Linked DNA regions of Homo sapiens: region 2 is linked to region 1. Evidence: fine-mapped expression QTL. A gene starts in region 1. The other region holds a variant in brackets. All regions are shown on one strand. Distances are between the middles of the regions.

What was found. PIP is the estimated chance that this variant, and not a neighbour inherited with it, causes the effect.
Region 2: its variant is fine-mapped to the expression of SH2D1A in whole blood (TOPMed, PIP above 0.99). The same link has a PIP of 0.9 or more in blood mononuclear cells.

Annotation. Positions count from the first base shown.
Region 1 is chrX:124,343,717-124,349,097 of GRCh38, reverse strand. It overlaps SH2D1A (SH2 domain containing 1A), which reads right to left and starts at 2,535. Exons shown (of 4, transcript NM_002351.5): 1 at 2,319-2,535. The coding sequence starts at 2,455.
Region 2 is chrX:124,215,385-124,220,765 of GRCh38, reverse strand. No RefSeq gene overlaps it. Among named protein-coding and RNA genes, the nearest start is that of TEX13D, 110 kb to the left of the region's middle. RefSeq lists an enhancer at 2,029-3,789. The variant A/G (reference allele first, on the strand shown) is at 2,990.

The sequences.
Region 1 (5,381 bases):
TTCACTTTGGGCGAAAACTTAAATGCTTGATAATTTCTCACCTGCCTAAGTTAATTCCTCATGTGGTTCCGGCCTACATAGGCAAAAGTCTAAAGCTGCCCTTCTCTCTTGCATAAGGTACTTAAGGCAATCTTTTGCAGAAGGTAGGATACACATTACTATTCCTGTTTTATAAATATGGAAACTGAGTCCCAGAGAATTTGAGTGACTTTCCCAGAGTCCATACCCTAACCTCTCAATGGCCATTCCGTTTATTGCAGTAAAGAACAGAATTTGCCTTGACAGTTTGTTAATTCAAAAATATCTGCTGAGTGCCTATTATGTGTTCCTGTGTTTCTGGTGATGGAGACAGTATCTCCGCCCTCATGGAGATTATATTTTTGCAGGACAGCCCAGCAATAAGTAGGTAAACAAGCAAATTATCAGATAGTTTAAAGCTCTTTGAAGAAAAATAAAGAGATGGAGTGAGTGTATCAGGGACAGGGAGAGGGCACTTGTTCTAGATAGGTGGTCAAGCAAGTCCTCTCTGAGGGAGGAGACAGTTGAACAAACATGTGAACTGAAGGTATTTTGGGCAGAAGGAACAATAAGCGCAGAAATCCTAAGTGGGGGCATTTTTGAGGAGCTTGAGAAACGGCCAGGAGCCCCGTGAGGCTGAAGCCTTAGGTATATCTTGCCTCTCACTATACCCTGTTGTCCCTCCCCTGCCCAGACTTGTTTTGTACATTCTTTTTCACCTTTGGGTTAAGGAGCATGTTATCTCCTTTGTCAGCTTCCCTAAAGCAGCGCCTTTCACCCACCCACTCACTCCACCTTCTTTCAATGAGAAAAGAGCCTAAGAATCCTAGCTGGTTTTCATTGCCCTTCCCTAGGTTCCACACGGGAACAATAATTATATAAGCAAAACATAAAGATTCAAGCCCAAGACATTCAATAGCTTCCACGTATTTCCCTTGAAGCCTTTGTGAAAAATGTATTTAGCATGACCTGAGAGCTGCCACAAACAAGGCTTGACCGTTTTTAAAAAACAATATACAGTGAAAAATCTTCTAGCACCAGCATCAGGATAATCTTTCTTCACTGACCCATAAGGTATTTCAAACTCTTGTGGGGTATTATCAGATGCTGAACTTACTACCAAGCATTTAACCTCATTTGGTTTCTGTCTAGAACCTACAATGCAGGGCTGCTGTTTTCATGGATTTTTTTTTTTATCCTGCTGACAATAATGCCTGAGCTAGGTCCTTCCTTAGAAATGCCCCCATGATTCCTAAAAGAAATCAACTGAAAAGAGAAGATAAAATAATAATATATCTTTGGTATAATAATAATACCAATAGCTTACATTTATTGAACATTTACTAGGTGTCAGGCCCCAGTGCTAATTTTTTTACTGCATTATGGCACTTAATCTTACAATCCTATGAGGTAGGCAGTAATATGATACCTATTCAATGGATAAGAAAACTGGGGAACTGAGAGGTTAATTTGCCCAAGTCACAAACCTAACATCTGACGAGCACAGGACAAAGTCTCAGATCTGCCTGACTCCGGAGCCCTGGAGCAAAGACGCAGATGAATTTGATTCAAAATGAAGCCTTAGAATGAGACATGCCTAGGCAAATGGCAAAGCTGAATCATAACAAGGGTGTTTTCCCTCCATTCCCTTTAAGACTATTGTGAGTCCTAACGTTTATCAAGAAGGGTCCTATTTCTGAAATCCCCTGCCCCTCCCCACCCCCCACTACTTTTCTAAAGGATGCTACATCAGCAGATCCAGAGAGGTGATTTTACTGACACACATCCCCCTCCTCTCTCAGCATCTCGACCTAACTGGCATTGCATTCTTAAAGTAATTGACTCTGTTTCTTAATGTGCCTCCTCTCTCTGAATGTCATGCTCTTCCTTTGGGATGACACTTCAAAAGTCGTTTAAAGAGAGCTAGAGTAAGGCTCGCAGGGCGCCACCCGATAGGGGTCAAAATGGAAGTGGGGAGCCTGGGTCTTTCCCGGAGCGAAGGTAAACTGTGGACCACATTTCACCACCCGAAATGGCATTCTCTGCAGCTGCCCCAAAAGGCTCTGGTGAGGGCCTTCTGGAGAGCAGGAGGCCCAGGGAATGAAATCCCCAGCGAGGGATTGAGGCGAAAGTGTGTTCCACCACGGCCCTGGGCTGGACTTGAGGGTGGGCCACGGAGGAGGCGTCGGCGAGCTGCTAACGCCGGCGCCCCTGCCTGCCTCGGCCTCCACCCTGGCCCCAGCTGCTGTTGCCCACCGCCCACACCCTCAGCAGGCCCATGTCCACCGTATCATACTCACAGCACACATAGGCAGTACACGCCTGGCACGCTCTCGCTGTCCCTCAGCAAATAGCTGCCATCCAGCCCAGTGGCAAGCAGGAGCTTCTCGCCGGTTTCCCTGCTGATTTTGCCATGATACACAGCCACTGCGTCCATGGCCTGGTGGACTCTTGGGCAGGCCGAGGAGGAGAACTGTGCAAGGGAGATGCCGCTGCTACTGCAGCCAGGCACAAGTCAACCACCTGACTCCCAGTTCAGCCAGATGTGCAAAAAAGAGAGAAGCACCCCAACAACAGGATGTTGTCTACTTGCCTTAAACCTCCTTCTCACACTTCAGTTAAAACGAGCTCAGCAATTTAGTAGCTTGGTTCGATCGAGCTTGCCAAGGGCTTCCATCTTCTGCCCCCCAACACAGGGTTCATACAGAGAGGGGAGGAACATTGGAAGAAGGATTTTGCAAGATTGGGGCTGTACTGCCAACACACACCCTTGCACTCAGACGGGGATGCTTAGTAATGCTTCTGTTCTTGCGGTTTACTCAGAGGCCACCAGGAATAACTTAGCTCAACTAGCCCATAAGGAGTTGATGATAGAGGCAAGTTGTACATGTCTCTGTTGGTATGTGGACCCACTACGTAGGGCAAAAACACACTGACAAAATGAAAGGACCAAGAGCTCTGAGAACAAAACACTGATAGTTTTATCAGTACTGTCAGTATGCAATCATTACTGAACATGGCCATGAAGACTCCTACAGAATCAGACATAGTAGATGAACAGTGAACTCTGGGCAAGTTCTTCTTCTCCCTCTTCCTTCTACCTCACGCAGTCATCTTGAGAAGTCTTGATCCTGAGCAAATATTGATTTCTTTCCTAACACCTTGTCCAAGGTCCCAAAGTGCTAGTTGAGATACAAAAGTCACAATGTACATCCAAAGATGTTCCAGATGTATCTATTTGATGGGCTTTAGATGAGACTGTGAATCATTTAACTGGTGCTTTGCCTTTATGTGGATTTGTATGTGCCCTTTGGTGTACAGGGCCCACCTTTCAGCATTTTGTCCATAAAATCTGTTTTGAATCATTTGCAAGTTGTTGATAATTTTGTTGTAACTTTTATTCTCTGTTGTTTCTAGAAAATGTTATTTCTTCGATTGAGGCTAAACTGTCTTTAATATTTTAAAACCTTTCAACCTTCATTTTCTTCTCTGAAATAAAACATTGCTTCTATTTCAAAATGTGCTAGGTAATATTTCCGCAAAGCTTCCTGCATTTTCACTAGAGTAAGACTTTATTTATTGCTGAAGCTGAATGGTCTTGTACATGTACCTTTAGATTATGTAAAGTACTTTTAAAATTTGAATTTAAATAACTGAAGCTATGTCGTCTATTATATGCTTTCTGCAACTTCAGTGTGTAGTTCTTTGAGAATATGGCAAGGCTGGGAACTCAATAGCGAGAACGACACTTAATTCCTCACATGTCTTACCAATGGATTGGATGTACAGAGCTGACTTGCACCAAAGGCAGATATTTGCTCTTCATCTACTAGGATTAAGAACAATCCTCTAAGATTTCAGTGGTAGCTGGTAGCAACTTTTCTTCTTGATTGAAGAGTGTCCAGCCTTAGTATGCAAAGTATAAACATAAGTCTCCTACTAGTCATTTTCAGCATTAAGAATTTTTTTTTAAAGCATTCAAGGTGACATTTGGGGATGGCTCTGGGGAATGGGACCAATATTATTTTATCATCTTCCTTCCTCACATGTTTTTGACCAACTCCACCTCTTACCCCTTTTCATGCTTTGGATCAAGGAAGAAATTAATCTGATATATGAATGCATACTCCAACATTAAGGATTTGAAAGGTTGTCCACCTTGGGCTCTCCATATATTGAGCAGGCAAATGGTTAGCCCAGAGGAATTAATCAAAATGGTGGAATTTCAAATAGAAAGGAGACAGGGAAAGGGATCCCTTTATATCAGTCCATATGAGCAACAGCTGACCTGTGAGGTGAACTGTGAGAACATTCAGTGTCACATAAGTGAAAACAAAACCTAACCTTTTTTTGTCTCTTAACAACTCTGAACAAATCATCCATAAACTTAGGAACAGAGCAACCTGGATCTGACAGCACAAGCGTACCATGCACTCTTTTTTTCTTTCTCTGTTTTGTTCCATGTTGCTAAAATAGCACACCTGTCAAAGCAGCCAGGTATGACGGGGTTCAGCACAACTAAAATTGCACTAAAAAACAGATAAATTATAAGGTAATAGTACAACTTTCACATCCAGTACCTCATTGTCATCTTACAAGCAAGCTGACAGCTGAGCCAGCCGAGCCAGCCCACTAGTGCAGTGTTGATGAAAAATACTGACATCTTCACTCTAATCCTACACCAGTACTAAACCTGACTTTAGCAAATTCAAAACTTCACACTGAGCTTGAAGCGTAGAGAAAAGAGGAATTGAAATGACTCTCTTCCTTCTCTCCCCATACACACGAGAGGAAATGGGAGAAAATGAAAGAGGAGAGCAATGGAGATAGTAGAGGCACCAACAGAGAAAGAGTTAGGAAGAATGGACCCCAAGTACAAGTATAAACCACTTAGGAGCAGAATTATTTAATTAATGGTTTATCGTCTGTGTCCCCCACTAGAATGTAAGGTCCATGATGGAGGGATTTTGTGTACTTTGCTCACCACTGTATCCTGTGTCTGGCAAGTAGTAGGTGCTATATATATTTGTTGTGTGAATGAATGAATGAATGAACTTAATGCTCTCAATAAAAGAAAAAATACTGAAATTCTCTTTTACACTCACGCACACACACACACACACACACACAATATTGGTTCTACATGCCTATGGTCGTCTTTGAAATGACAAGATGAATTGGAAGGAGCAGTAGTCCAGTAAGTAGGAGAGTTGAAATATATGCCATGTTTTGCCACTAAATCACTTCTCTCTGAGTCTCATTTTCTCCATCTGTCAAATGGAATTGAACCAGATGACCCCTAAGGTCACGTCTAGGTTTAACATTCTATTCTCTAAACAAAAGCCAAATGTGTTTTAGAGAGA
Region 2 (5,381 bases), 130 kb after region 1:
GCCATATTTTGAAGTAGCATGTACTGAACCCCATTAGCAGTTTTTTATAAAGCTAGAGATACACTTACCATATGACCCGGTAACCCAATGTCTAGGCATTTACCCAAAAGAAATGAAGATACACATTCACACAAAAGCCTGTAAGTAAATGTCTATAGCAGCTTCACTAATTATCACTCAAAGCTGGGAACAACCCAAATGTCCATCAGCTGGAGAATGGATAAACAAATTGTGACACATCCATACAATGGAATATTACTTGGCAATACAAAGGAATGAACTAACACATGGATGAATCTCAAAAGCACTGGAGGTTAAGGCAGGAGGATAGCTTGAGCCCAGAAGTTTGAGACCAGCCTGGGCAACATGGCAAGACTCTACCTCCACCAAAAAAAAAAAAGTTTAATTAACAGGGCATGGTGCCATGTGCCTGTAGTCCTAGCTACTCAGGAGGCTGAGATGGGAGGATTGCTTGAGCCCAGGAGTTGAAGGCTGCAGGGAGCTATGATTCTGCCACTGCACTCCAGCCTGGGTGACAAGAGTGAGACCCTGCAGAAAAGAAGAAAGAAAAGGAAAGAAAGAGAAGAGAAGAAAAGAAGAAAGAAAGAGAAAAAGAGAAGGAGAGAGAGAGAAAGAGAGAGAAGGAGTGACAGAGAGAAAGGGAGAAAGAGTGAAGGAGAGAGAGGAGAGAGAGAAAGAGAGAAAAGAAGTGACAGAGAGAAAAGGAGTGACAGAGAGAAAGGGAGAAAGAGTGAAGGAGAGAGAGGAGAGAGAGAAAGAGAGAAAAAGGGAAAGAAAGAAAAGACAGAAAGACAGAAAGAAAAAGAAAGAGAGAAGGAGACAGAAAGAGAGAAGAAAGAAAAAGAAAGAAAGAAAGAAAGAAAGAAAGAAAGAAAGAGAAAAGAAAGAAAGAAAGAGGAAGGAAAGAAGGAAGAAAGGAAGGAAGGAAGAAAGGCGTTATGCTAAATGAAAGAAGTCGACCTAAAAGAGTATATATTCTATGATTCCATTAATATGACATTCTGAAACTGCAAAACTGCTGGAATAGAAGATAGATCAGAGGCTGCCAAAGGTTGTGTATGGAGAGAGCAGACTGACCACAAAGAAGCACAAGAGAACTTATTGGGGTAATAAAAATATCCTGTCTTGATTGTGTTGGTGGTGACATAATAGGATATGTTTGTTGAAACTTATTTGCACTTTTAAAAGGAGAATTTTACTGTTTGAAAATTATACCTCAATAATCCTCACTTAAAAGAAGTTAATCCTATCTGTGAGCCTGAGGTAGAGAGGAGATCTATGAGGCTTTTCTTCCTTAATTTGCCTTCCATAATGATGGTATGCATGGTTGAGAGGAGTGTCTCACATTCATGAAAGACCTCCGTCCTTGCTTTGCTTGCCAGAATGCCAACTACATGGGAAGTTTGCCTTTTGGGTAACAGTAGGGCAAAGTGGATGTAGGGAAGAATGAGGGAAAGGGAGGAGAGTTAGCATTGCATAGCAGTTTAGAGCACAGATGTTGATAACAAGACCGATGTGGGTTCAAATTCCAGCTTTGCTATTTCTGAGCCGTGTGACCTTGGGTAACCTACTTAGTGTCTCTGAGCCTCGGTATCCTCATTTCTAAGACAGGAGCAGTAATACCGAGCTATCTCCCAGGGTCCCTGAGCAACTCAAATAAGCTAATATATGTGAAAGTATCTGGCACACATGTATAACACATGTGAGAGGGGATAATAAAAGAGGTAATGAATGTGAAAGTACTTGATAGATGATAACCATTCTTATTCCTAAATCAAAAGATGATCTGGGGTAGAAGGAGAGCAGTCTGGCTGATAGGAAAGATATGTGGGCGGTGTTGATGCCTCCCACCTGCAACCACATACAACTCTACTCTCCACTTCTGGCATTACCCATTTAGTGGGTGACCTACATTCCGGAATTTCCAGGACAGCCACAGATCTAGTCCTTCCCCTCAGGGGACCACGTGTCAGAGTTGGGGAAAGAGAGGGACTGTGGTCAAAGAACATATTCCTGGCCTCCCTGACCTGCACCCTCTGCATTTCTCTCCTTTCCTCTACTCGTCTTCAGTGGGGATTTGCTCAGACTTCTTTCATGTGAAATCAAACAGAACTAGAAAGGTAAATCTCCTGGGTGCAAAAAAAGGAAACAAAAAATCACCAGCTCCGTACAATACATTTGAACACCAAATAGAAATGGTTGAGAGATCACTGCCATTCTAGTTATCTGTGACACCCCTCCCCTCCCCACCACATCCCTTCTCCCGTCCTCCCCCATCCTCTCCCCCATCCTTTCTCCAGAGGTGGCTAGAGTTGAAAAAACATTTGTCTCTCAGCTGATCATCTGGGACTGAGGAGAAAGAGGAGAAAGCGAATGAATTATTTAAGTTCTGCAGTGTGTGTGTGTGTGTGTGTGTGTGTGTGTGTGTGTGTGTGTAGGGGGTTCAGCACCCCCCCCCTTTAATTAATGAACAATCTGGCCCATTGCTCCTCCCGTAAGTATGCAAAATAACTTCTTCATTTGAAATCCCTGTTGTTGAATGTACTCCTTGGGCACAATCACATTGCCGCCCCTTGTTCTGCATAAGAAACCGCTGTTTCCAAGATAAGAATCTTTTCATTTAGCTGTCATGAGCTCATCCTTTTTCCTGTGCATTGTGGCTCCTTCTCCTTTGAGTCAATACCCAAACAATGACTGCCTGTGCTCTGGCACCCTCCTACCCCCAGCCCCGGAAGACAGAAGGCTGAGGCCTCCGGAAGCCTGCCTAGGCAGGCAACCCAAATTCTTTTCAGGCCTCAGATGTCAAGAGGGCAAGCAATAAGAAGATCTGAGACCCCTGAAAATCTACTGGCTTTAAAGTAGACCCTGGGAAAGAAACTCTGAATAGTATGATGTGTGTGGTAGGGGGCGGACAGGCGCTGCCCTGAGATCATGAACTTAAACAGTCTGGGAAATGTAAGGAGAGGGA[A/G]TAAGGACCCACAAATGTGCAAAGCTGCTGTGTCTCTCTTCCTCTGTCCCTGATCAGCAGACTGCATCCTGTCCCTGCCCTTTGGTTTGGAACAACCACGCCCACAGCAGAAACCACACAATGGCACTTGCACTCCAATGAGAAACTAGAGAGGCCTCAGATTCTGTGGAGTCCAAACCCTTTCCTCATTCTGTATGCGGGTAAATTGAGGCTTAGGGAGGGGAAGCAGCTTGCCTAACAGCACTCAGATCGTTGAAGAGGTGGGTGCTAAAACTCCAGACTCATGCTGTTTATTCTACCACACATGGCTGCCTCTGGAGGGAATCAATAACATTTGTGTACAAAGCACTGAGGAAAAAGACAAGATAGGAGATTAAATTAGATCACAGTAAGCTACAAAGCCTATACAAACAGTAGGGGTTTTATTGCTAGCTTCCTCATTTATAGGCATTGTTTTCAAAAGATCCAGGAGAATAACAAAACTTAACCTTTACCAGTGAAAAAGGACTCTGCAGAAGGCAGTGAGTTTCCAAGACAAAATGTATGTAGTCACTTTACCTTGGGGAATGGGGCTACGTGGTCACATCAGCTCAGCACTCGCTCATTATTTCCACTTTGGGGAGAGGAAATAATGCACCAAAGAAGCTTTAATTAAGCTATAGGTAACTAACATGTGTCCAGCAGGAGGCCTGGGGCACTGAGGCCCACAAGAAATAAGAATAAGAAAGGTCCTGCCTTTAGAGAGGTTATAAGCTGTTCGATAAGCTGTCTGGTCTCTGCAATTTGATCAGAAGCCCCTTCAGGGCCAAGCCCGTGTATCCCTGGTAACTTCCAGGAGAGGAAAGAGTTCCCAGCAGGCGCCCCCTTGCTGATTGGCTGGTTAAGTGGCTAGAAAAGACCTCTCACGCTGATTCTGTTGTGTTCCCAGTGCAGCTTTTTCTCCACGTTTGGTGTAAAGGAACCTTTATTACATTTCAAACAAACGGTTCCCCTGTGGCCCTGAGAAAGCTCCAGTGATTCCCAGAATGTCTGGCCACCTGTGGCCTTCAAGGTGGCGGAGAGCATTTTCCTCTTAGCCACCAGAAGAAGTAATGTTTCAATGCCAGTAATGATGTTGCTAAGAAAAACCACAGTCAGAAGGAAAGTTTTCCCTCACCCTCCCATCAGTTTGGGGGCAGTCAGAAATCTCACATCCTAGATAGAAAAGCAGCAGAAGAGGAAGTAGGAGACTTGGGTGCCCATCCTAACTTGGCCCCTTATTAGTGGTTAGACTTCAACAAATCACTTCTATCTCTTGGCCTCAGTCTTTTCATCTGTAAAACGAGGGCATTGACTTGAGCAAAGTTTCCCAAACTAAGGTTTGGAAGTCTGAATCTTTTCAATTGTGGGGTTGGAGTGAGGGGTAGATATAATATAATAAAAGAGATACTTGGTAGCAAAAAGACAAGAAACAATGGACTGGATGAACATTTTTTGTTATAATATTTCATGATTCCAGGAAATCCAGTTTTTGTTCATGGGATTGGCTTTAAAATGAAACAGGTGTTTGTTATTTAAAACAACTTCACTTCCAATTAAATTGGGCAAATTGAACACATGCACTTATCTGAGCTCCTTCCTGAGATCCCACAAAAAAAGAACAGGGGATTAAAAGGCCAAATGCAGTGAGTACAAAGGAAAAAGGGGGAGAGGCTATAATAAGCAAGAAGCACACACGCGTGCATGCGTGTACATGTGCAAATATGGAAACTAGAGAATGGCTAAATGAGTGGTTTAGCAGATTAGAAAAAGCCAAAACCCAAGGATGCGGTTTATACTCCAAACCTCAAAAAGCTCAGGTTTTGAGGGTACCAGTTATCTCTGAAAGTGGGAGTTTTGGTATGGAGTTGAAAACAGGATGATAGATTGAACATGATGATAAGAAACAGCCCCCAAATCCCTCCCTCCATCCCAGCAGGGGAGAAAACATTTAAACCAAGCACAGCTGAGGGCCCACTGAGAAGCTATGTTGAAAACTGGGATTAAGTTGGAGTCTGCCTTCTGAACATTGAGACCTCCAGTCCCCATCCTTGACTCAGTTCCCAAAATACTGACAGCCAGGTTACACATGCCAAGCGGAAGATTGGAAGATTCCACTCTGGGAAACTGACTGAACCCAGAGAAATAATTCAGATGATACTGAAGAAGCAGGCAGGATGTCAAATGATGTAGGGTTTTGTAGGCCATATTATAGTTTTTGGATTTAGCCTAAGGACCAGAAAGTCATTCAGGGGTTTTAAGCAGGGGAACAACATGATCGAATTTGCATTTTTTAAAGATGAAAAAGGAGCTAGTGTGGATTTTCAAAAAGTGAAGACCCTGTACCACATTTTGACCAGTTTCAGAGAGGAGG